Linked DNA regions of Homo sapiens: region 1 is linked to region 2. The links come from fine-mapping of genetic effects on gene expression. A gene starts in region 2. The other region holds a variant in brackets. All regions are shown on one strand. Distances are between the middles of the regions.

Region 1 (12,491 bases), 150 kb after region 2:
CCTGGCATGATGTCCTCTGGGTTCATCCATGTTTTCTTAGTCTTAAGAGAGTACCAAGGAGACAGGATTTTTAAGAAAATAGCAGTGAGGGGAGAGGGATCAAATTGGGATTGAAAGCAATTAGTCTGAAAAAATTCCAATTGCCTCTTCCTTCCAGGGTCCATCTTACTGACCTAGCTTGAATGAGGTCTCCACCCTTTGAGGCATAAAACCAGAAAATGGTGGTGACAGCATAGTGCAGTCGTAGAGAATCCACTCTTACGTCAGCGAGATCCATTAAGGGCTAAAGAATCATTGGAGATAGGAAACTATGCAGGAAGGATTCACTGTACCTAAAACTAATTTATATTGTGTGTGAAGTGTTGGGTATCTTCAAAGGAAAATATGCAATGGTGTGAAAGGATGAATATGCAAAGCATGTTAAGAAGCAAGCCAATAAAATAAGCATGGATCCAACAACCCACATAAAAAATGGAGAATATTTCTCATTCATTGTTGCTTTCAAGGCTTGCTTCTCTACTGCCTTGAAAATCCCACAGTCAAAGTTAAATATGTTCCTGAATTTTTTGTGTAATAAAAACATAACAATTTTGCCTAAGAGCTCTGTTTTCCTAATCAATATATTATGGTTTACTTAGGCTAGCATTTGAATCATATTCACTGGGAGCACACTGCATAGTCTGTATTTTTTCCCTTCCAACAATTTGAAATTTCTGAGATTCAGCCATGACTCTGCACATAGATTTAGTTTATTCGTTTTGCCTTTGTACAATCTTTCACTATGTAACTATTTCACACTTTACAGATCCATCCCCCTGACGGTGAACATCTGAGTTGTTGCAGGGTTTTACCGTTACAAACATTTCTGCTAAGGCCATGCTTATCTATGTACAAGAGTATGCAAGAGTTCCTCTAAAGTGTATACCAGCGAGGGGAATTGGTGGGTCGTGTTCTGATTTAAAGGATGGTGCCAAAGGGATCTCCAATATGGTTGTACTGATTTATGGTCCCAGCAGCAGTGGGTGAATGTTCTCATTGTTTGACATGTACATTAGCAGACAGATTTAGCCATAATTACATGCTGCTCGCTGACACCAAACCAGTTTTTCCCTCTTTAGAGCCTGACCACATTTTCCATCTGCTCCTGGAATTCAGTGTGTGTTTGGTTGAGTTCTGGCCAAGGAAATGTGAGTATAAGCGTGTGTCCCATGGAAATCTCCCACGGGTGAGCTTCCATGAGCTTTTTCCTTGGAGTTGATAAAACTGAAACAGTGGCCAAAAAAATCAACAAACAAAAACAGGGATACCTTGCAAGGCAGGTGTTGGAGATGGCAGAGTACCAATTTGGCAATAAACCTGAGTCTCTCACTCACCACTTGGAGAAAATCTACCCAAGCAAGAACACTTGCAAAGGGCTAGTAAAGTAGGAAAAATAAACTATGATTGTGTTAAGCCAATAAAATCCTGTGCTGCCTTTTTTCTATTGGTGAGCATTACTCCGGGATTCTGAATGGGATCAACCTTGCGCATCTAAAATGACGGCGTTCTCTGGTGGCAACATGCATTTCTGATTTTCTAGTGTGATTGGCCAAATTGTCACTGGGTTACTCAGCTCTCATAGTTCCTCTGTTAGAAAGCCCTACACTTTTTGACCTTTGCTCATTGAAAGACTGTAAAAATAATTGTGAGAAAAGATGAAAATATGTGAGTATGTATACATCAATATTTGTAGACTTTTATAGTTATCATGCGTATAGAATATGGGCATACAGGCACAAATGTGTTCAGAAACATGGCAATTTTAGGAATTGTTTAATTTAAGGTTTCTTTTATTTCAGGGCTTTTAAGAATATCCACAGAGCTGCACATAATGAAGGAAGTATGTATATTTGTGCCCTGACTGTGAAGAGTGTTATACCAGTTGCACAGAAATTTGCATGGATCAGAACCTTATAAGCAAAAAAGAGCAATTCCAAATTACTTTTACTTCCTTGTCATTGAATGTTCCTGGGTGATAGCCAGAACTCTACATTAGCAAATTCTCGTATAATTTTCTGTAATAATGGAAATGTTCTATCCTGGGCTGCCAAGGTGGTAGCCTCTAGCCATTTGGGACTACTGAGCACTGAAATGCAGCTAGTGAGACCATGGAAGTGATTCTATTATTTAATTTTTAATTTTAATATTTGTGGGTACATACTAGGTGTACAGATGGAAGTGAATTCTTATTCCTATTTTATTTTAAATCCTTTAAATTTGAATGTAATTATCCACAGGCGTCTAGGGGTATGATGTTGGACAACACCCCAGATCTACAGGAACTTGCCATTGAAAAGGTCAAGCAGCAACACTTCACCTGGAGTGCAGCTAGAAATGGAATTTCCCAGGTCCTGCTCAGGACTTACTGCATCAGACTCATTCGAGAGCATGTTCAGGTTTGAGAGCGTTACATGAACCACCATTTGCATCTTGCCTTTTTCTTAGAGACAGGGTCTCACTCTGTCACCCAAGCTGCAGTTCAGTGGTGAAATCATAGCCCACTGCAGCCTCAACCTCCTGGGCTCAAGCAATCCTCCCACCTCAGCCTCCTGACTAGCTGGGACTACAGGCACACACCACCATGCCCAGCCAATTTTTGTATTTTTTTAGAAACAGGGTCTTGCTGTGTTGCCCAGGCTGGTCTCGAACCCCCGCTTCAAGTGATTCTCCTGCCTTGGCCTCCCAAAGTGCTGGGATTACAGGCATGACCATTGGCCCTGGCCTCATCTTGCTTTTTTTCTCTTTGTCAACCACTGTGAAAATCTTTCACATATTGCCTGGTTGTTCTCTTGTTGCCATTTGAGCCCATTTGTTCTCAGAAAGCAAGTGGCATTCCATCATCCCCAGGTCAAGGAGCCAAGGAAGATATTAGGTATCATCAGATGGCTGAAGCTGTTTACAGTCCAATTTGCACACCCTGTGACCAAGTTACCGTTAGGATTCTGCCATTATCTGAGAGTGTTGGACGTTGGTCGATACGCCATTTTCTCAGACCCCAGGACACTTAGAATGACTCCCAAGAATTCCTTCCCCAAATGGTTCCATGGTTCGTAGACATTGTTGTGTTTTGTAATGGAGGTGGCATATGTCAGGTTTGAGCCAGCAGACCGTGGGAACACAGAAAAGCAGCATCTGCCAGTAGGGTGAGTCCAGGGCGGGTTCTTGGAAGAGATGAGGGGATTTTGTGAGCTGAGCCTGGAAGAATGGGTACTGGCAAGGCATGCTTTCTAACACTTACAGAACATTTCCAAAACAGTGACTTGGGTGAGTCCCCATTCCTGTATATTTTATGAAGAGGCTAGACATTGAGAAATAATCGTGGAGTGAGGTGAGACGTTGTGGGTGATGACGGCATATAAATATTTGCACGTATGCATGTCTGCCTAGCTGCCACATTTGGAACATATGAGTCTTTAGAAATGTAAGTGTACGAAGAGCTGGGCATGGTGGCCCACAGCTATAATCCCAGTGCTTTGGGAGGCTAATGAGAGAGGATTGATTTAAGACAGGAGTTCAACACCAGCCTCACAACACAGTGAGAACCCCATCTCTAAAATAAACAAAATAAAATAAAATAGTCAGCGTGCTGCAACACACCCATAATCCCAGCTACTCAGGAGGCTGAGGTGGGAGGATCACTTGAGCCCAGGGAGGTCAAGGCTGAAGTGAGCTATCATGGTGCCACTGCACCCCTGCCTGGGCAACAGAGCAAAACCCCGTCTCCTAAAATAAAAACTAAAAAATTTAAGTACAAGAGCAAAGTGATTTTTGGTTGATGATAGCTGGGGGAGGTGACTTCAGGGAAAGCAAAATAAGAACGTGGTAGATCCTAAAATGTTTAAAAGCATTTCTATAGATGGGCGCATGCACAACTTGCTCTTTTCCTTGTCCTCTGAAACTCAGGGGATACTATAATCTTAAAAGTACATGGAAAAGGAAGCTTAAATGCATACACACTATCACCAATCGATCCAGCAATCTCACTCCTTAGTATGTGGTACCAAAGGAGTTGAAAATGTATGTCCACACAAACCTGTGCACACAAATGTTTATATGGCAGCTTTAGTCGCAATTATCAAAACTATTTCAACAAAATTGTATTTCCCTTTATTTAAGAAAATAGTGTTTATATTTTAGAGGAGTTTTGGGTTTACAGAAAAATTGAGAAAAAGGTACAGAGATTTCTCATATAGTCCCTGCTCCCTTACCCCAACTTCCCCCATTATCAATATCCCCACCGGAGAGGTACGTTTGTTCTAAGGAACCTACATAGACACATCATTATTGATATGGTTTGTCTCTGTGTCTCTGCCCAAACCTCATGTTGAATTGTAATCCCCAATGTTGGGGAGGGACCTGGTGGGGGGTGATTAGATTATGGGGGTGGATAAAACTTGGAGGTTACAAAGATGTGCTTCAGGCAGTGAATGGATAAATAAAGGATGATACAACCTGATCATAGAATATTATTCAGCATGTGAACCTCGAAAATTTGAGAGAGGTCTCAGTTAATTTAGAAAGTTTATTTTGCTAAGGTTGAGGACAGATCCCCGTGACACAGGCTCAGGAGGTCCTGACAACATGTGCACAAAGTGGTCGTGACATAGCTTGGTTTTCTACATTTTAGGGAGATATGAGACATCAATCAATATGCGTAAGACGCACATTGGTTCAGTCCAGAAACATGGGACAACTCGAAGCAAAGGTGGGAAGACTCCAAGCGGGTGAGGAGGCTTCCAAGTCATAGGTAGTTAAGAGACAAATGGTTGTATTCTTGTGAGTTTCTGATAGCTTCTCCAAAGGAGGCAATCAGATATGCATTTATCTCAGTAAGCGGAGGGGGCACTTTGGATAGAATAGGAGGCAGGTTGGCCCTAAGCAGTTCCCAGCTTGAATTTTACCGTTAGCTTAGTGATTTGGGGGCCCCAAGATTTCTTTCTCTTTCACAAACACTAAAATGAAATGAGCTATCAAGTCATGAAAAGTCATGGAGAAATTTTAGATGCATGGTACTAAGTGAAGGGTACCATGCATCTGAAAGGGTATCTGAAAGGCTGCATGCCGTATGATTCCAACTCTATGACATTCTGGAGAAGACAAAACTATGGAGACGGTGAAAAAGAAAATCAGTGATTGGCAGGTCTTGAGAGTGGGAGAGAGAATGCAGAGGATTTTTAGGGGAGTGAAACTACTCTGTGTGGTACTAGGATGCTGGATCCATGCCATTATACGTTTGTCCAAACCCTTAGAATGTACAACACCAAGGGTGAGCCCTATGTGAACTATGAACTCTGGTGATAATTGTATCAGTTTGTTCTCATGCTGCTATAAAGACATACCAGAGATGGCTAATTTACAGAGGAAAGAGGTTTAATTGACTCACAGTTCTGCAGGCTGTTTAGGAAGCATGGCTGGGGAGGCCTCAGGAAACTTACAATCATGGCAGAGCAGAAGGCGAATGGGGACGCAGGCACATCTTCATATAAAGGAGCAGGAGAGAGAGACTGTAGTGAGGAGGAGGTATACATTTTTCAAACAACCAGATCTCATGAGAACTCACTCACTACTACGAGAACAGCAAGGGGAAAATCCACCCCCATGATCCAATCACCTCCCATCAGGTCCCTCCCCCAACACTGGGGATTATAATTCAACATGAGATTTGGGTGTGGACACAGAGACAAACCATATCAATAATGATGTGTCCATGTTGGTTCATTACAACAAATGCACCACTCTGGTGGGGATATTGATAATGGGGGAGGTTGAGGTAGGGGAGCAGGGACTATATGCGAAATCTCTGTACCATACTCTCAATTTTGCTGTAAACCTAAAACTCCTCTAAAATATAAATTCTATTTTTAAAAAATAAAAGGTAATAAAATTTTGTTGAAAAAAATTATTCTTGGCTTGACACGGTAGCTTATGCCTGTAATCCCAGCACTTTGGGAGGCTGAGGCGGGTGGATCACCTGAGGTCAGGAGCTCGAGACCAGCCTGGTCAACATGGCGAAACCCCATCTCTACTAAAAATACAAAAATTAGCTAGGCGTGGCAGTGCATACCTGTAATCCCAGCTACTAGAGAGGCTGAGGCAAGAGAATCACTTGAACCCAGAAGACAGAGGCTGCAGTGAGCTGAGATCGTGCCACTGCACTCCAGTCTGGGTGATAGAGTGAGACTCTGTCTCAAAAAAAAGAAAAGGAAAAATCATTCTCCTGAGTTCAGAAAAGAATAGGATGAGGGGTGAGTAGGGAGGTTGTTTATATTTCCCAAATTGAAAACCACTCGATCAATATGGATGGATGAGAAACAGCATTTTCCAGACATCATTATCTACTTAGGCATCTTTGAAAATTCCGAGTGGAGCAAGGAAACAGCATGAGGATCCAGCAGAAGGAAGTGCTGGGAACAAGCTGGGCCTCTCCCATGGTTCTGGGTGGCATAGAGCTGCCGGGAGACTGGAATTTCATGGAGACTTTGCATGAAGTCTGCCTCGTTGGGTCAGGTTTGTCATCAGGGTGCAACACCTTGGGAACAGACAGCCGGGTAGAAAGTAGCAGGGCAAATCCATGAGGATGTCAGGGGCCGCAAGACAACCACGCCTAAGGAAAAACATCGCAGGAAGGTCACACTTGCTTTCATTTCTGAATCATAAATGTGCGAGATGGAGGCATATGGATGGATGAAGCAAATTAATGAAG[T/C]GTGCAGCTGTCCTGTCGGATTGCTAGGCAATAGCAACAAAACCCAGGCGGCTGTCGTGAAGAATGCAGACAGCCTGCACCACCGCCCACAGAGCTTGCTGCATGACCAAACCAATGAGACTCCCAGAACAAGCGGGAAAACATGTCCAGGGTTCTCAGAAATGCCTCGGCAGAGCTGTGCCTCCGGGGAGTTGCATTCGCCACAGAGATCCTCACCTGGCGAAAAGCGACTGCTTCCCTGCTCATTTCCAAAATGAGCACCTGTTGAGTTGTTTGAGCTGTGACGAATGCAAAAAAAAAATCTCAGGGGGAAAAAATAAAACGTTAAGGAATTTTTTTTAGTTGCATGGATTATCAGCCTCCGCCAGTCTCATGATGCTGCTGTCAGTCCGAGACCTGATGTCATAGCCTGAAAAACTCAGCTCAGCGTCTGAGGTTTCGACTCCCTTCTTAACAAAAGTCATTTGTCTTGACCTCCTAGTTAAGAAACCACAGGTATTTAGAATATTGTACAAAAAGGGACTGCCAGAAAAATCTCATACACGTGTGCAGTGGGCTTTGCTCAGATGCGGGAAATCAAAGACATGTTCAGACATGGCGCCCTCCAGTTTTGCAGTGGGCTAAATATTACAGAAATGGTTCAACTCTGTCACCGAGATCATGTGAATTAACTTTGTCCTCACCCTTTTCAACAAAGGGTGCTGGGATAATTGGCTAGCCACATGCAGGAGAATGAAACTGGATCCTCATCTCTCATCTTATACAAAAATCAGCTCAAGATGGATCAAGGGATTAAATCTAAGACCTAAAACTATAAAAATTCTAGAAGATAACATTGGAAAAACCCTTCTTGACATTGGCTTAGGCAAGGATGTCATGATCAAGAACCCAAAAGCAAATGCAATAAAGACAAAGATAAATATGTGGGACTTAATTAAACTAAAGCGCTTTTGCCTGGCAAAAGGAACAGTCAGCAAGGTAAACAGACAACCCACAGGGTGGGAGAAAACCTTCCCAATCTATACATCTAACAAAGGACTAATATCCAGAATCTACAACGAACTCAAACAAATCAGAAAGAACAAAACAAACAATCCCATCAAAAAGTGGGCTAAGGACATGAATAGACAATTCTCAAAAGAAGATATACATATGGCCAACAAACATATGAAAAAATGCTCAATATCACTAATGACCAGGGAAATGCAAATCAAAACCACAATGCAATACCACCTTACTCCTGCAAGAATGGCCATAATCAAAAACTCAAAAAACAGTAGATGTGGTGAACAGGAACACTTCTAAACTGCTGGTGGGATGTAAACTAGTACCGCCACTATGGAAAACAGTGTGGAGATTCCTTAAAGAGCTAAAAGTAGAACTACGATTTGATCCAGCAATCCCACTACTGGGTATCTACCCAGAGGAAAAGAAAATCATTATTTGAAAAAGATGCTTGCACACGCATGTTTATAGCAGCACAACTCACAATTGCAAAATCGTGGAACCAACCCAAATGCCCATCAATCAACGAGTGGATGAAGAAACCCTGGCATATATATACAGTGAAATACTACTCAGCCATAAAAAGGAATGAATTAACGGCATTTGCAGCGGCCTGGATGAGATTGGAGACTATTATTCTAAATGAAGTAACTCAGGAATGGAAAACCAAACATCGTATGTGTTTAACCAAACGTCGTATTATTCTAAGTGAAGTAATTCGGGAATGGAAAACCAATCGTCGTATTCTCACACATAAGCGGGAGCTAAGCTATGAGGATTCGAAGGCATAAGAGTGACACAATGGACTTTGGGGACTTGGGAGGAAGGCTGGAAGGGGAGCGAGGGATAAAAGACTACAAATAGGGTGCAGTGGACACTGCTTGGGTGATGGGTGCATCAAAATCTCACAAATCACCACTAAAGAACTTGCTCATGTAACCAAACACCACCTGTTCCCCAAAAATCTATGGAAATATAAAAAATAAAAAATAAAAACTCTGTCCTGGAACCAGGTTGGTTCTGGGCATTGTGTTGTGTTGTGCCGTGGCATGTTTTGCCTTGTTTGAGTGGTATCTACACAGAACCACCCAATGAGGTGTCTGGGATGGTTTGCTCTCTTGGTGATCTCGAGGTGCGGTTTCAAGTGTTTTGTTGTACTATGTGGTGTCATTGCTTGTTTTGCCTTGTGTGGGCTATGTATTAGTCAGGGTTCTCTGGAGAAACAGAACCAACAGGAGATATGTATATAAAGAGAGAAAGATTAAAATAAAGTATATTAGTTCGTTTTCATGCTGCTGATAAAGACATACCCAAGACTGGGCAATTTACAAAAGAAAGAGGTTTAAGGGACTTATAGTTCCACATGGCTGGGGAGGCCTCAGAATCATGGCAGAAGGCAAGGAGAAGCAAGAGTTCACTGCACTCCAGCCTGGGTGATAGACGGAGACCCAGTCTCATTTTCAAAAAGAAGAATCCAGTATATTATTATTACAACTCTTATTAATAGTTGCTTTGATTTTCTGCTCCTTTATCCAATGGTACCTAATTGAACAACATGCAGACCAAACACCACCAGCAGTCCACTTTCTATAAAACTTCTAACAGGGCCAGTTGCAGTGGCTCACACCTGTAATCCCAACACGTTGGGAGGCCGAGGCAGGCGGATCACAGGGTCAGGAGTTCAAGACCAGCCAGTTCAAAACCAGCCTGGCCAACACGTTGAAACCCAGTCTCTACTAAAAGTACAAAAATTAGTTGGGCATTGTGTGGGTGCCTGTAATCCCAGCTACTCAGGAGGCTGAGGCAGGAGAATTGCTTGAACCCGGGAGGTGGAGGTTGCAGTGAGCCGAGATCACACCACAGCACTCCAGCCTGAGCCAAAGAGCAAGACTCCATCTTGGGCCAGGGAGCAGGGGGTAGGCGGGGGGTACTTCTAACAGGATGTAGTATTTTCTCTTGTAGGTTGGTGCATGGTGAGAATTTATGTTGCAAAATGGGCTGTCATGTTGCTTATACAGATCAAGGGGGCCAACACCGGTAATTGTCAATTTTTGAGTGAATCACATCATGATTTTTTGTGTGTTTTTACTTTGTCCCTGGTAGATTCTGCGTGAAGAGTTTCCCGTATGTTCAGAACTACAAATGAGGTCAGAATTTTGGAATTTCAAGTTTGGCCCCATAGAGTAGATTGGGTAAGATTGGGTTTTTCACATAACACTGATTTATTTTACTGTTGATGGGGAAAGACACACATTGGACAAAACTCATTTATTCTGTATCCTTCCTTTGCCATTTGTAAGTATCCTTGAATTTTTTTTTTTTAAATTTCCTTGCCTTATCTTCCTAGGGAAAAAAAAAGGTCAGAAGATAGGTCTAATCTGCCTGGAGCCTGAAAAAACACAGATCTTTTCAGATCATTGATTTTTGTTTGTTTGTTTTTAGGTCAAGTCTCGCTCCATAGCTTAGGTTGGAATGCAGTGGTGTGATCATGGCTTACTGCAGCCTCGACTTCCCGGGCTCAAGCAATCCTCTCACCTCAGCCTCCTGAGTAGCTGGGACTGCAGATGTGCACCACCACACCCAGCTCATTTTTGTATTTTTTGGTAGAGATGAGGTCTCGCTGTGTTGCCTTATTTATTTATTTAGCCAACTATCTTCGTATTGTGTATGGTGTTTTCCTATATCTGATTCAAGAATGAATACAAAGATAGATTTTATCTGGAGATATTCTACAAAGTTTAAAACCATACAGTGAATATATTGATAATTCTTTGGTCAAAAGTGGTTCTGGGGTGTATTTCTCTATTAAATACACCTGGAGTACATTTCCTTATTAAATAAGTCTATATGAGAGGAAGGATAAGTTCAGGGGTTCTATTATACCACATGATGACTAAAATAAACAACAATGGATCACATACTTAAAAATTGCTAAAAGAGTAGATTTTAAACGTTCTCTCCACCAAAAAATGAGAAGTTGGTGAGGTGATGTTTATGTTAACTAGTGTCATTTGGCCATTTTTCAGTGGAAACACATATCAAAGCATCATGACGTTACTGAGTTCATGCGGTGGCTCACACCTCTAATCTCAGCATTTAGGAGTCCCAGGCTGGAGGATTACTTGAGGCCAGAAGTTCAGACCAGCCTGGGCAATATAGTGAGACCCCCATCTTTACAATAAATTTAAAAAATTAACCAGGCATGGTGGCGCAGGACTGTAGTCCCAGCTACTGGGAAGGCTGGGGCAGGAGGATTGCTTGAGCCCAGAAGGTCAAGGCTGCAGTGAGCTATGACGACACCACTGCACTCCAGCCTGGGTGACAGAGAGAGACCCTGTCTCAAATAAAAGCAAAAAAAAAAAAAAAAAAAAAAAAGTTGTGCCTCATAAATATACACCATTTTTATTTATCAATTAAAAAATTAATTTTTGAAAATCCCCTCCTTTTGAAAAATGAGTCTATATGAAACATCTACTATATCACAGGTACCATGATTATATCCTGTATATTAGGGACATAATATCTACTATATAATGGATGCTAAAATTATATCCCTATATACTAGGGATATGATATCTACTATATGACAGGTACCGGGATTATATTCCTGTATACTAGGGATCTAAAATCGACTCTGTGATGGGTACTGGAATAATATCCCTATACATTGGGGATATCAAATCGACTCTGGGATGGGTACTGAGATTATATCCCTATATGCTAGGAATAGAAAATCTACTATATGACAGGTACTAGGATTCTATCCCTACATGCCAAGGATATAGTATCTACTATGTGATGGATACTGTGATTATATCCCCATCTACTAGGGATAGAAAATCGACTATGCAATGGGTACTGGGATTCTATCCCTAAATACTAGGGATATAATATCTACTATGTTACAGGTACTGTGATTATATCCCTATGTGCGAGAGATGTAAAATCGACTGTGTGACGGGTACTGGGATTCTATCCTTATATGGTGGGGATAGAAAATCGACTCTATGACAGGGATTGGGATAATATGCCTATATACTGGGGACATAAAATTGACTATGTGATGGGTACTGGCATTATCTCCCTATATACTGGGGATAGAAAATCGACTGTGTCACGGGTACTAGAATTATATCCCTATATGGTAGGGATGGAAAATCCACTGTATGACAGGTACTGGGATTATATCCCTATATGCCAGGCATATAAAATCTACTACGTGATGGGCACTAGGATTATAGCCCTACATACTAGGCATATAAAATCTACTATATGACAGGTACTAGGATTATATCCCCATATACAAGGGATAGAAAATGTACTATATGATATGTACTGTGATTATTACTAGGGATACACATCCTGAAGATGTAGTTCCTGGGCTCGAGAGAAACAGCCTCAGAAACCAACAATTCACCCATGGGTGTCACAGGAGGTGTCATGAAGTACAGAGTAAGGGCTGGGTAACTCTTAGGAAAGGTGCCCCCAGAGAGTGAGCCTTTAACCAAGATCTCAAACAATGGGTCATTGTTTGCCAGAAGTAGGGGCAGGGGTGTAGGAGGGAGAGAGGGAGAGAAAAAGAGAGAGAGAGGCAAGGTCTCCCACGCAAAGGAAAAGAGCCTGTGCAAAACTATCACAGCTCATGAATGACCAGGATGAATGTGGACAGATGATATTCTCTTGTGTGTCAGGACTAAAGAAAATGTTATATTTGGCAAAGATCCATGGAGGTAGGGAGTGCAGG
Region 2 (12,491 bases):
GATTTTTCTGAAACAATGCTATTATGATATTATTAGTGATTTTTTTCAAGTAGTATATTAGTTCCTGTTACAAATTAAACCAGATGGAAGTAATAGATGTTGATGCAGTGAAGTGATTCTCTAGGGTTTTAAACTTTTTCTTTTCTTTTTAATATTACAGAAAACTATCTCTAGATATTACTGGCAGCAATAGGAAAAAGAAACTTTAACATGTTGGTATGTCTGTTTTATTCCTACGTTAAAGTCAATCTTTATCGTGAGTTGTTTAAAATGAAACCATCAGAAATGGTGTTGTAATTTAGAGGTTAGTTATGTTTTGCACTTACAAAGTACTTCAGTTTAAAAATGAACGGGAAGAAAAGCATCCCAGAAACTGTAAATGAGATGCAAACAACTTCAGAAGTAATAGTCTTGTTGGTGCTGTAAGTCTCAAGCCATTAAACAAATCACCTCTTTGGGGAGGGTGCATGCAGGGACTGTCTCCACCCTCATTTCCAGCCTGATATCCCCCTTCCCAACACACAACACAAACACACAAACCTGCTGTGCAAGAAGCACCGCAAATAGATATATATTATGTATAATAGATATATATTATATATCATGTATAATATATATTATACATGATATATATAATGTATAATATATATTGTGTATAATATATATTATATATTATATAATATATTATATTATACATAATATGTTATACATAATATAATATAATATATTATACATAATATATTATATATTATACATATATTATATATTATATATTATATACATAATATATATAATATATAATTATTATATATAATATATAATAATATATATAATGTATATAATTATATAATTATATATATAATATATAATAGAATTATATATAATATATAATTAATATATATAATATACATATTATATTATATATAACATGTATATTTACATTATATATATTATTACTATATATTATGTATATATAATATATATTATTATTATATATAATATATATAATATATATTATTATTATATATAATATATGTAATATATATTATTATTATATATAATATATGTAATATATATTATTATTATATATAATATATGTAATATATATTATTATTATATATAATATATATAATATATATTATTATTATATATAATATATATAATATATATTATTATTATATATAATATATATAATATATATTATTATTATATATAATATATATAATATATAATATAGTATACATATATTATATATTATATAATATGTATATTTACATTATATATTATATATATTATAAAGATAATATATATAAAATATATACATTCTGCATCAACCCCAAGCTTTTTAGAGGGCTCCACCAAGGCCTGGCTGATGGTACCCCCAGCATGGGACCTGCCAAGGTGCTGGGTTTGAGAGATGAGGTGGCTAATCCCAGCAAGTTAGACCATGTGTTAAAATGGTTCATGTATAAAAAACAATTCCTAGACAGAGCCATTTTGCACACCAAGGGTGGAGGAAAAAGAAGTTACAGTTAAAGCCCCACTTTCTGTTCTGCAAATATCACACGCACCTTCCCCCAGGATTCAAATGGGCTTTAGCAGACATGGAACCAACCCATATGCCCAAGAAAATGTGGTACATATACACCATGGAATACTATGCAGCCATAAAAAGGAAGGAAATCGTGTCCTTTCCAGAGATATAGATGAAGCTGGAAGCCATCATCCTCAGCGAACTAACAAGGGAAAGAGAAAACCAAACGCTGCATGTTCTCACTCATAAATGGGAGTTGAACATTGAGAACACATGGGCACAGGGAGGGGAACAACGCACACCAGGGCCTGCTGGGGGGTGGGGGTTGAGGGGAGGGAACATAGAGGATAGGTCAATAGGTGCAGCAAACCACCAGGGCACACATATACCTATGTAACAAACTTGTACACTCTGCACATGTATCTTGGAACTTAAAGTTAAGTAAATAAATAAATAAACAAAACTAATGGGCTTTAGCACCTCTTCCCTTTTTCTTACTTCCATTACACAAGAAATGTGTCCGATAAATTACAAGATTGTAAAAAGGGAAGCTGGCTTATGTGTTACTATTCCCTCCTCTGCCAACGCCAAGCTGTTTTCCCCAATGAGCTATCATTGTTGTGGTTGGATGTTCAGATGGTCAACTCATAAAGTCTAACAGCATTTCATTGAGAAACCTATTTAATGGTCTGTTGCCATGGGTTAGGGAAATTATCATCTTATTCCCTCAACGTTTCATTCTCTTATTCTACCACTGTCAACAGGGAAGTTTCCATCTTACTCCCTCAACACTTCATTCCCTGACTCTACCACTGTCGATAGAGAAATTTCCATCTTATTATCTCAATGTTTCATTCTCTTCTTCTACCACTGTCAATGGAGGAGAGTTTTTTCTTTTAACTTTGTTCTATAAGATGTCCAGGTACATTTACAGTTATTTTGCATTGGCTCAAATCTGGCCATTTTATTTTTACTAAAACATCTCCATGGTGGATATTTCACAAACACTAATTTAATCAGTTGTTCTGGGGATGGATGCTAAAAAGTAGCTATTATATTTTGTTGACGAACTCCAAATGATTGTTGACTATTAAAATTGCAGTTGAGCACCTGTAGTTCATAGCAACTAACACTTCGGTCCACACAACCCTCGTGTGTATAAAATGAAACCAGTATATTAAAAGTCTGTCTGGCAAGCCACATCAAAATAGGTTTTTAAAAAGACGTTGATATTTTTAACAGGCAAAATCTGCAGGAACTCTTTTATTGCCTCAAAGTCGCAATTCTATCATCTACATGACTTATAAAATGGCACAGATGTTCTGCTTATTTTTATTATTCTTAAATCGTTGCTGAAGTCTACTTAAATCATCTTCATATGTTTAAGTGTGTGTCTCATGCATTCACCTCAACAATGTATTAAAGAAATGCTATCAAGGGAATTTCTCAACAAACTCTAAAGTTGTTCATGCTGCTCGTTAATAGACCTTACAGCAGTGGCAGCTGATGGATATATTGAGATAATCATCGAAAAAGCTGCGTTTAGCATAACTAAAACTTTTTCTCTCTATTCTGCCCATCTGCAGCTCCATAATTCTCGACAGAGCTACACAGAGGAAATGCACATATGAAGTTAAGTAAATGCACATACACACACGCAAAACCAGATCAAGACGCACGCACTGACAGTGGGAAGGTTCGGGAAGAAAGTGGTACAAACCCCAAATTGATTCTTTCCACGTGTTTAGCAATGCCAGCGGGCACGGAAGCCAGGGATCGGAACGTGCAGTGGACCTCGCTGGGGACGTAGCAGGCACAAGGATGCGGGCAGGCCAGCGCCACTCGCGGATGGCCCCAAAGCAGGATCAGCACCACGGAGAGGGCCCCCCAGTGCGCGCGCTTGGGCATCTTGTCGGGGTGCCTGATTCTCGGATACCTGAGGTAGAACAACGAAGAGATGAGCTTATTCACAGGTAGCACCGACGAACTGTGGGCAATTTTTAAATTTGAATTGTGCATCAGGGTTTCAAGCTTCCCAGGACTTCACACGATGTGTTGTAGTGACGCTTAAACCATGGGAATTGAGAAAGATGAAACATGGTTTTTTTTCTAAACTTTTCACCATTCACTTTAATCATGACTATAGAATATAGTCTTGATTCTTGGCTTCGATACTATGATTTGGAAATCTATCTTGCACTCTGTAATTGCGGCTATGAAACAGAGAGAGACGAGAGAGAGAGAGAGAGAGAGAGAGAGAAGAAAGAGGTTTATATTTATGTATCCATAATTAAAAAATAATAAAATATTGTGTTTCTGCCTCCAACAAGACTGAGCCATTATATATTGCATATATTTGAATTTAAAACTTCCCAAGAAGTGTTTATTCGTATTCTTTCCTTTAATGATATTTTTCAAACCTTTAATTCTAGCTTCTTGAAGAGCTTAAAGAGGTATTTGCTAGAAGGATATTCATCCTGTTATTTCTGGGTTTATTTACTATCCTTATGTTTTTGTCTTGGAAAAGCCAGAGAGTTTTTTTGATGATATAGAGTTGCTGTTAATCGGGGAGGAAGTTTGGGGGAACCTCTGATCATTCAATAAACAGGAAGGGACTGCTTATGAAATATATTCAGGCAAACAGAAAAAAATGGAGTCACTAAAAAATGGAAAAGCTCGGGTAAAGCTAGATTGCATCAGCTACTTCATTTAGAATGGCGGTGATCATTTTCTTCTTGTCCTGGCAATGCCTATGTCATCTAACATTTTTGTCATCTCTTGAATGGCGTTCACTTAAAAATAGTGACACACATGGAAAGTAAATAGGGATACACAACAAACACGCGCCTGCCCATTCGCCCGGGTTCTGAACGAGCGCGAACTGCTGATTAAAATTCTAAAACCCAGGCCGGACTCGGTGGCTCACGTCTGTCATCCAACACTTTGGGAGGCCGAGGCGGGCGGATCACCTGAGGTCAGGAGTTCGAGACCAGCCTGACCAACATGGAAAAACCCCGTCTCTACTAAAAATACAAACAAACAAACAAACAAAACAAAATTAGCTGGGCGTGGTGGCGCATGCCTATAATCTCAGCTGCTCGGGAGGCTGAGGCAGGAGATTCGCTTGAATCCGGGAGGCAGAGGTTCCGGTGAACCGAGATCGAGCCATTGCACCCCAGCCTGGGCAACAAGAGCGAAACTCCGTCTCAAAAAATAAAAATAAAATTCTAAAATCCTTCCTATAAGAGAGGAACATCCCAAACCTGTAGCTTTTCCTGCCTTTAAGTGACCTAGAAAAGGTTATTCTCTTAAGCCCGGGGGCGCGTCTCCCTTCAGCTGCCCATAAAGAACTGATGGCGCACAGGTAGTTTTGCAAAAAAGCAAGTCCGGGCTCCGCCTCTGGGCGCTGGAACAAACCGGCTCCTGCAGCTCTGCAAAAGTCCTCGGAGTTTTCTCTCTCGCCAGAGCCCGGGCTTTCCCCGCCCCTGCCTGCGCGCCTGACCTCGGCGCTGGGCTGGTTCCAAGGGCAGCCGCGCCAGTCCCCAGCGTCCTGTGCCTGCGGGCGGACTTGGCCCGGGCGTTCCATAGGACTCTTCAGCCCCAACTCCCTGTCCGGCCTCCCACCCCGGCACCAACCTCCCGGGAGACCCAGGAAACTCGCCCCCAGACAACCCTAATCCCGGGGACTCGGGGTCGGGTCTCTCCGCCGCGGAGAAAGCGGCCTGGCGCCAGCTAGGCCGCCAGAGACGGTCTGCGAACCCCGCCGGGAAGCAGGGGTGGGGGCGTGAGGCCGTCTGCTTTCGTCTTGGCCCTGGGCAGACAACCTGGAGTGGCCGGGCGGGCAGCCCTGAGCCCCTGGCCGGCTTCCAGAGTCCGCTGGGTCGCGTCGAGCTGGCTGCGGGATGAATTACGAGCTTTCCCGGAACGCGGCTGGGGTGGCCCTGCGAGTCCCCGCCGCCCGGGACTCGGACACCAAACCCCTTTTGTCTGCGTGATGACTGTCCCGGTTTTTTTGCATGGCTCGGATCACTCTAGGCGTTGGGCTGTCCCCTTTCCAGGGAAAGCCTGGGTAAGAGTAGGAGGAAAGAGGCGGGGAAGGAGAGGGGGAAGAGAGGAGGGAGAGGAGACTTGAAGTAGCCACAGCCTGAGCAACTTGGAAAGAGGCTCCTCAAGCGTCCTTTCCCCCACCGATTGCAAGAGCAGAGTGGGCTTCACTTAGGAATTCCGTTGGCAGCTTCCTAGAAACGCGGGATGGCGGGGTTGAAGGTCTCCAGAGAGAGCCAGGGATGGGGAGCGCTTTGGGGAGAGGGAGGAAAGGAGGCATGGGATGTCTGGGCTTAATTAGACCTATTCAGTGCATCCTCCTTCAAGATCCGGCTCTCCTCCCTATCTGATCCTTAGCTACTTAAAATTGCAGGAATTCAGGTATCCTGATTTCTTAGCAACTTCAAACAGTGCTGGGGAACGGTGCAATCTGCCTGCATGCAGGCCCTTTACCCCCAGTGTTTCCCTTGGGTGTCTCAAATCCCTTCACCCCCTGCAGGCAGACACGGCAGCCCTGGGGCGCCCTGGCCACCCTGGGTCCTCACCTGTCCTTGGGAAGCCGCCGCACACGGGAGCGGTGCGCCGGGAGCATCCACCGAGCCGGGGCGCGCGAGTCACGGCCGGGAGTTTGCCGGGGCCATGCCCTTCCCGGGGCCGGGGGTGAGGCAGCTCGGCTTCCCAGCGCGGCACAGCAAGCCGGCGCCCTTTTATTCCCGGCGCTGCGAGGCTTCCCCAAGTCCACGCCTCGGCACACCCCCACCCTGCCCCACCCCGGGGAGACGGGGCGCGGGCCCGAGCCAAGGGACCCTGGCCGCGCCGCTCTGCGCTCAGCCTTCCTCTCGCGTCTTCATTGCGCCTGGGCCCGGGTGGGCATGCCTCGCCCACTCCAGCTGCAAGAACCGCAGGCGGCTCGGGGAAGGAGGGCTCTTTGTCAGAGAGAAGTCCAGGACCCCAGGAGGGAAGGGCGAGATGCAGGGAGCGCGGTGGGAGCCGCAGTAGAGTCCGCGCTTGGAGAGCGCCTAAGCAGCGCTGGGAACGTTTCCGTTCCTTTCAGGAGAGAGAGAAGGAGCAGGGTTTGCGCTTCTCCGGGCCAGACGGTGTTTTCTCGGCAGCTCTTCCCAGACCGTGTGCAAGCAGGAGCGGGCTGGCCCCGCCGGCATCCCACTAGCTGCAGGCAGGGCTGCAACGTGAGAGCCGCCGCCACGCCCTCCCGCCTCTCCAGGACTCCCCGGCGCCCGCCTCCCTCCCCTTGCCAGAGTCTTCCTGCCAGAAAGGTGGAACGGCTCCCCTCCGGCTTGGGGAGCATTCGAGGGGCAAGGCGAGGGTTGGGACGTTCGGAGAGTCTGATGGTATTGTCTGGGGAGGGGGCGGTGGGAGGGTGGGAGCGACCTGGCGACAAGGCAAAAAGTAGAGGGTGCAGAGGGTAGGTCCCTATTCCAGGAGGCAGAGGAAGAGGAGGCGGCGGCTGCCTGGCTTCCTGGATAAGTCAGACCTGGAATGGTGGGGAGAGGTCAGGCGAGTATCTTCAGTCAGCAGAGCCAACCTGGGGTAAAAACATGGAGCTCAGACAGGTGTGTAGGGCCCGGAAAGGCACCATTGCACCAGCTTGTTGTAGGGTGCACCAGCGACTGCTTTTCGCTATACCTCTGGTTAGCCGTATTCCTCTCCCTGAACCAGCATTTTGACATGTCCTTAGGGTCAGTGTTTGCCTGTTGTGTTCTTTGATCTACAAAAGACATCTGTGAGTATAAAAAAAATTTTTTTTACAAGCCCAGTGGTACCATGTACTTGTACAACGAATCCTGTCTGCTGAGATGCCCCTGAAGCAGGCTGATGGCGTGCGGCATTTATGTATGTGTGTATGTATGTATATATGTATCTATGTATTTGAGACAGAGTCTCGCTCTGTTGCCCAGGCTGGAGTGCCAGTGGTGCGATCTCGGCTTACTGTAACCTCTGCCTCCGAGGCGCAAGCGATTCTCCACCTCCGTCCCCCATGCAGCTGGTACTAGAGGCTTGCGCCACCACGCTGGGCTAATTTTTTTTTTTTGGTGCGGACAGGGTCTCACTATGTTGCTCAGGCTGGACTCGAATTCCTAGCCTCAAGTGATCCATCCACCTCGGACTCCCAAAGTGCTGGGATTACAGGCGTGAGCCACCCAGCCCAGCAGGCATGCAGCTTTTAAAAGGCAATGCATGGAGAAAGTATAATTGAGAAGTGCCTGCTCTTTAGATTCAGAAGTCCTGCCCTACGTCCAGCACTCTGTCAGGGGGCTTTCAGGAGGAAGGAAGGACTAAGCCTAAGAAACAAGTTGCTTCCCCTGCATGAAGCGTGGTTCATCTTAGCTCCTCCTAAGAAACACAGCGTCTAGGAATTCCTCACCACCTGCCTCCTGCGCCTAGGGTGGCTTCCACAGAGTTGATAGTCAGGAAATACTGGTTCATAAATGGGAATTCATTCCTTCTCTAGCTTTAGTTTTCAGTGTGTGTTGACATAGTTCCAGGGATTAGTCAAATAATGCCCTTAGGTAGCCTCTTTCTGGGCATGCCCCAAACCCATTGATTAAATCACGAAACAAAACAAAACAAAAAACAACTGTCTCTTGAACATCTCTTTACCCTTGTTAATGATGTTGCCACCCATCTCGTCAGCTAAACTAGAAACTCAAGCCATCCTTGCCTTCTGCCTCTCCTTCATGTCTTCCTCATAGTCAACTGGTTGCCAAGTTTAGATCCTGATGCCTAAGAATCTCTTGGCCCAACGTGTTCTTCTCTCCACCTCTCTCACTGCGGTTGCATGGATATGTCTTAGATTTTGACAACTTCTTCCTCCACCAACTCCTTCTCATTCATCCCTTCCAGCCCATCACTGAGACTTAGAGGGATGCCATCATCCTCAAACCCAAGGCTGAAGTTTTCCATGGGTGGCCTGTGCCATGCCCTGTGCTTCCCAGCCTGTCCCTGGGATCTTCCTTTTGGTGATAGATCTGGCTTGTCAAGAACAAGTAGCACATCCCTGATTTTTGTTGTTGTTGGTTCACGCCACTGTTTTGACAAAGTTCTCCTCAATCTCCATTGTATAGTATTTCCTTACCTCCATGCCCATTGCTAAAGTGGGCTTTTTTCCTGCATTGTGGACAATCACTCACCTTCTTTTTATGCCGTCATAGCTTCTTGACACCTGGAGTATAGCACAGAGCTTAGCATACACTAAGCGTTCAATTGAATGAATGAATGAATGAATGTGCGCATGACTGACGTTGAATTCTATTAAGAAATGTCTAGATTTGGCCAGGCGCAGTGGCTCACGCCTGTAATCCCAGCACTTTGGGAGGCCAAGGCGGGAGGATTGCTTGAGTCCAGGAGTTTGAGACCAGCCTAGGCAACCTGGCAAAACCCTATCTCTACAAAAAAAAAAAAAAAAAATTAGCCAGGCATAGTGGCATATGCCTGTAGTTCCAGCTACATACTGGGGGCTGACATGGGAGAATTGCTTGAGCCTGAGAGGCAGAGTTTGCAGTGAGCCAAGTTCGCACCACTGCACTCCAGCCACAGTGACAGAGCAAGACCCTGCCTCAAAAAAAAAAAACATTTAAAAAAGTCTGGATTTCTCTGCAGTAAGGAAATCTGTTTATACTACCTTATCCAGGGGGATTATTATTGGCACATTTAATAGATAATATCTATCAATACCTCTAAATACTTGTGTTACCTGTACAATCTGCACCCCAAAAATGATTTATCGAAGTCTAGTTAAAGGCACAGGTTTACGGAAATGAGATGGTTAACTCAAACATAATGGCTTTAATTCCTTACAAGTGTGAAGTAAATAAAATATCAAGTCAACTAATTCAATTCTGCTTTGCAAATTTCATGCATGGGATGAAGGGGAGTGAGCAGCGGAAAGAGACCGCTGAATGGGAGCAGGGTTTTAGCTTAGGGTGACAGAAACGTTTTGGAACTACATGTAGGTGATGGTTGCACAATATTGAGGATGTACGAAATGCCATGACATTGTTACTTTAACATGGTTTACTTTACGATGTGAATTTCACCTCAATAAATTATTTTTAATAACACACATACTAATAAAAATAAATGCCTAGATTAGAAAAGTCCCAGGGCGTAACTTGTACAATAAATCCACAAATAAAGCATTATGGAATCTCGTCATTCTGTACTTTTTTTAAATAAAATGCATAGTTTGCTGCATTTAGTCTTTTTTGTTTTGATGTTTGTCCTGCTAATGTTGCCTGCTTGCTTGGTGATGTGTTCCCAGAGCAGGGACCATGTTTGATTAATTGTTGAATCCCTTGAAGTGCCAAGAGAGTTCCTTAAATACAAGAGGTTTGGAGTACATGTCGGTTAAATTAAATTCATCTGCTTGCTAATAATTCCACCATGTGGAGGGTGAGGAGGGATGATCAAATGAAGGGCAGGTCAGTCCTTGTAGCTACAGAATGTACTTCAAGCAAAAGCTCAGTGATTAACAAAAGGCCGGAGCCCTCCTAATCGCCAGATGCCATGGAACCTGAAGGATTGCAGCTTGTTGCAGGATGCACCAGTGACTTTTACCAGCCACTGCTTTTCACTGTTCCTCTGGTTAGCAGCATTTCTCTTCCTGAACCAGCATTTTGACAACATGTCCTTATTATCAACATTTGCCTGTTTTGTCTTTGATCTACAAAAGACATCTGTGAATATATATATATATATATATATATATATATATATAAAATAGAGCATTCAGAAGGAAATCCAAACAGGTTTGCTAGCTCACTTCCCATCACGCAACCCTGATCCTCCATCGAGACCCCCTTTCCTCTAGAAATGTGGAGGTAGGGAAACTTGCAGCCCAGGAGACCCAGGAGGCCCTTACCACTGGGGAGCCATCATCCCTCTGCCTCCGTCATAAGATCTTTAAAATCCACTTTTCTTGCAAGGCTTTAACCAACAGCAGAGCCATAGGTGATCGAGTCAGACAGATAGTAGAGCTCAAACCACCTCCTCCTACTACTCGCTATTTCTTGGCCAGAGGGCCTAGAACACACTATTCTCCCTTCCTAAAACCAGATTTCTCAAGGGTACAATAAGGGTAATTTTACCTCTTGGAGGTGGCGTAAAGACAGAATGCAATGCTGTATAGAGAGAACTGAACATACTACCTGCACCACATCTGTAGTTAATATTTATATATAGGATCCAGCGAATCTACAGTCATTTTTTTCAGCTTTATTGCTGTGTCTTTTATCTTCCTATCCAGGTTTTACCCCAGCGCAGAGTCTCTGGAGGTGCACTGGCTGTTTTGTGTATGAACTGCAGTTCCTGGCGATTCTGATTTCAATGTGAAAGTCTAATATTCTAAAGGACTCTGTGGATCACTATGTAATTTTCTTAACAAGGGTTGTAAAAGTAACTTTCTTAGTCACATGACTGCAAACCCCACTGCTTCCCAAACTCTGTAATCACGAGAAGGGCTGACCTAGTGAATACCCTTGGATGACTGGAGGGAAAAAAAAAAATCGACACAGGAAATCTCTACTTCAAACTCATGGGCTTGCATAGCTCAGAAATCTCAGGGGCAGACTAATAGCTAGTGGGGTTGTATCTTTATTTGAGCAGAAACAGACTTTTAGGAATTTTCCATGGGAACTTGCCCTCATCTGTGTAGGGTAAACCTTCAATGAAAATACGGGCTACTGGCCACCTCAATGAAAATGAGGGGGTATTTTTGTTTTGCTTCTTATCCTCATAGCACAGTCGGTAGGAATACTCTGTTCTCTTGCATGTACTAAAATGCTTCCAAATTTTCTCAACAGCATACTTTAAAATAGAACAGCAGCGTGGAAAATAAGTAAATAAATACAAAGAACACGTCAGAGAAACCCTCTAGCTCTCCTGAGCACAGTTGAGTTATCTCTGCAGATTAGGCTGGAGAAAATTCTGCTTAGCATGGTGCATATCAACCTACAGAGAAAACACATCGTGGAGAAGTGAACTAGCCTGACCCAGCTTGGGCAGATGTGCTGATGGGGATTTCTCGGCAAAATGAAAGCTGTTTATCTACTACTGTGTCTTACCGGGACCAGCGGCACCTAGAACGGTGGAACTCACAGACACAGGCTTCTCCGCTCTGGATCCCTAAAATTTCAGTCGGTAGAAAACAGCTGCAGAAGATGAGATCATGGAAGGTTATCCCCTTCCTCCCCAACCCAGACCACACAGGCCAGTGAATTGCAGACAGGGAAAGGCAAGGGAATGTCAGCAATTATTAATGAATCCCTTCAAAGACCTCAATCCTGGATGGGTCATTCAGCAGAAATCGCAGAAATCGAGACCTAGCTCACTTTTTTGTGGGGGGATGAAGTCTCACTCTGTTGTCCAGGCTGGAGTGCAGTGATGGAATCCTGGCACGCTGCAGCCTCCACCTCCCGGGTTCAAGCGATTCTCCTGCCTCAGACTCCCGAGTAGCTGGCACTGCAGGTGCGCACCACCACGCCTTGCTAATTTTTGTATTTTTAGTAGAGATGGGGTTTCACCATGTTGGCCAGGCTGATCTCAAATTCCTGACCTCAGGTCATCCATCCATCTCGCCCTCCCAAAGTGCTGGGGTTATAGGCATGAGCCACCACACTCGGCCCATCTCACTTTTCAAAATAAAAATGGCACATTTTCAACATGAAACTATTCATTTCAGAAAGATGTTCTATAAATGATGAATACTCACGATTCTGGAGTTCACATCAAGAGGGAACCCTAATGAAAACTACGGACTTTGGGTGACTTCGATGTCTCCGTGTGAGTTCATCTGTTGTAACAAATGTCTCACTCTGCTGAGAGCTATTGATCATGGAAGAGGGGGTGTGTGTGTGTGTAGGAAAGGGATATATAAAAATTTCTGTGCCTTCTGCTC

The links.
Region 1: its variant is fine-mapped to the expression of MXRA5 in lung (TOPMed, PIP 0.94).

Annotation. Positions count from the first base shown.
Region 1 is chrX:3,495,205-3,507,695 of GRCh38, forward strand. No RefSeq gene overlaps it. Among named protein-coding and RNA genes, the nearest start is that of SNORA48B, 31 kb to the right of the region's middle. The variant T/C (reference allele first, on the strand shown) is at 6,743.
Region 2 is chrX:3,340,392-3,352,882 of GRCh38, forward strand. MXRA5 (matrix remodeling associated 5) reads right to left here and starts at 6,261. Exons shown (of 7, transcript NM_015419.4): 1 at 6,124-6,261; 2 at 3,255-3,470. The coding sequence starts at 3,442.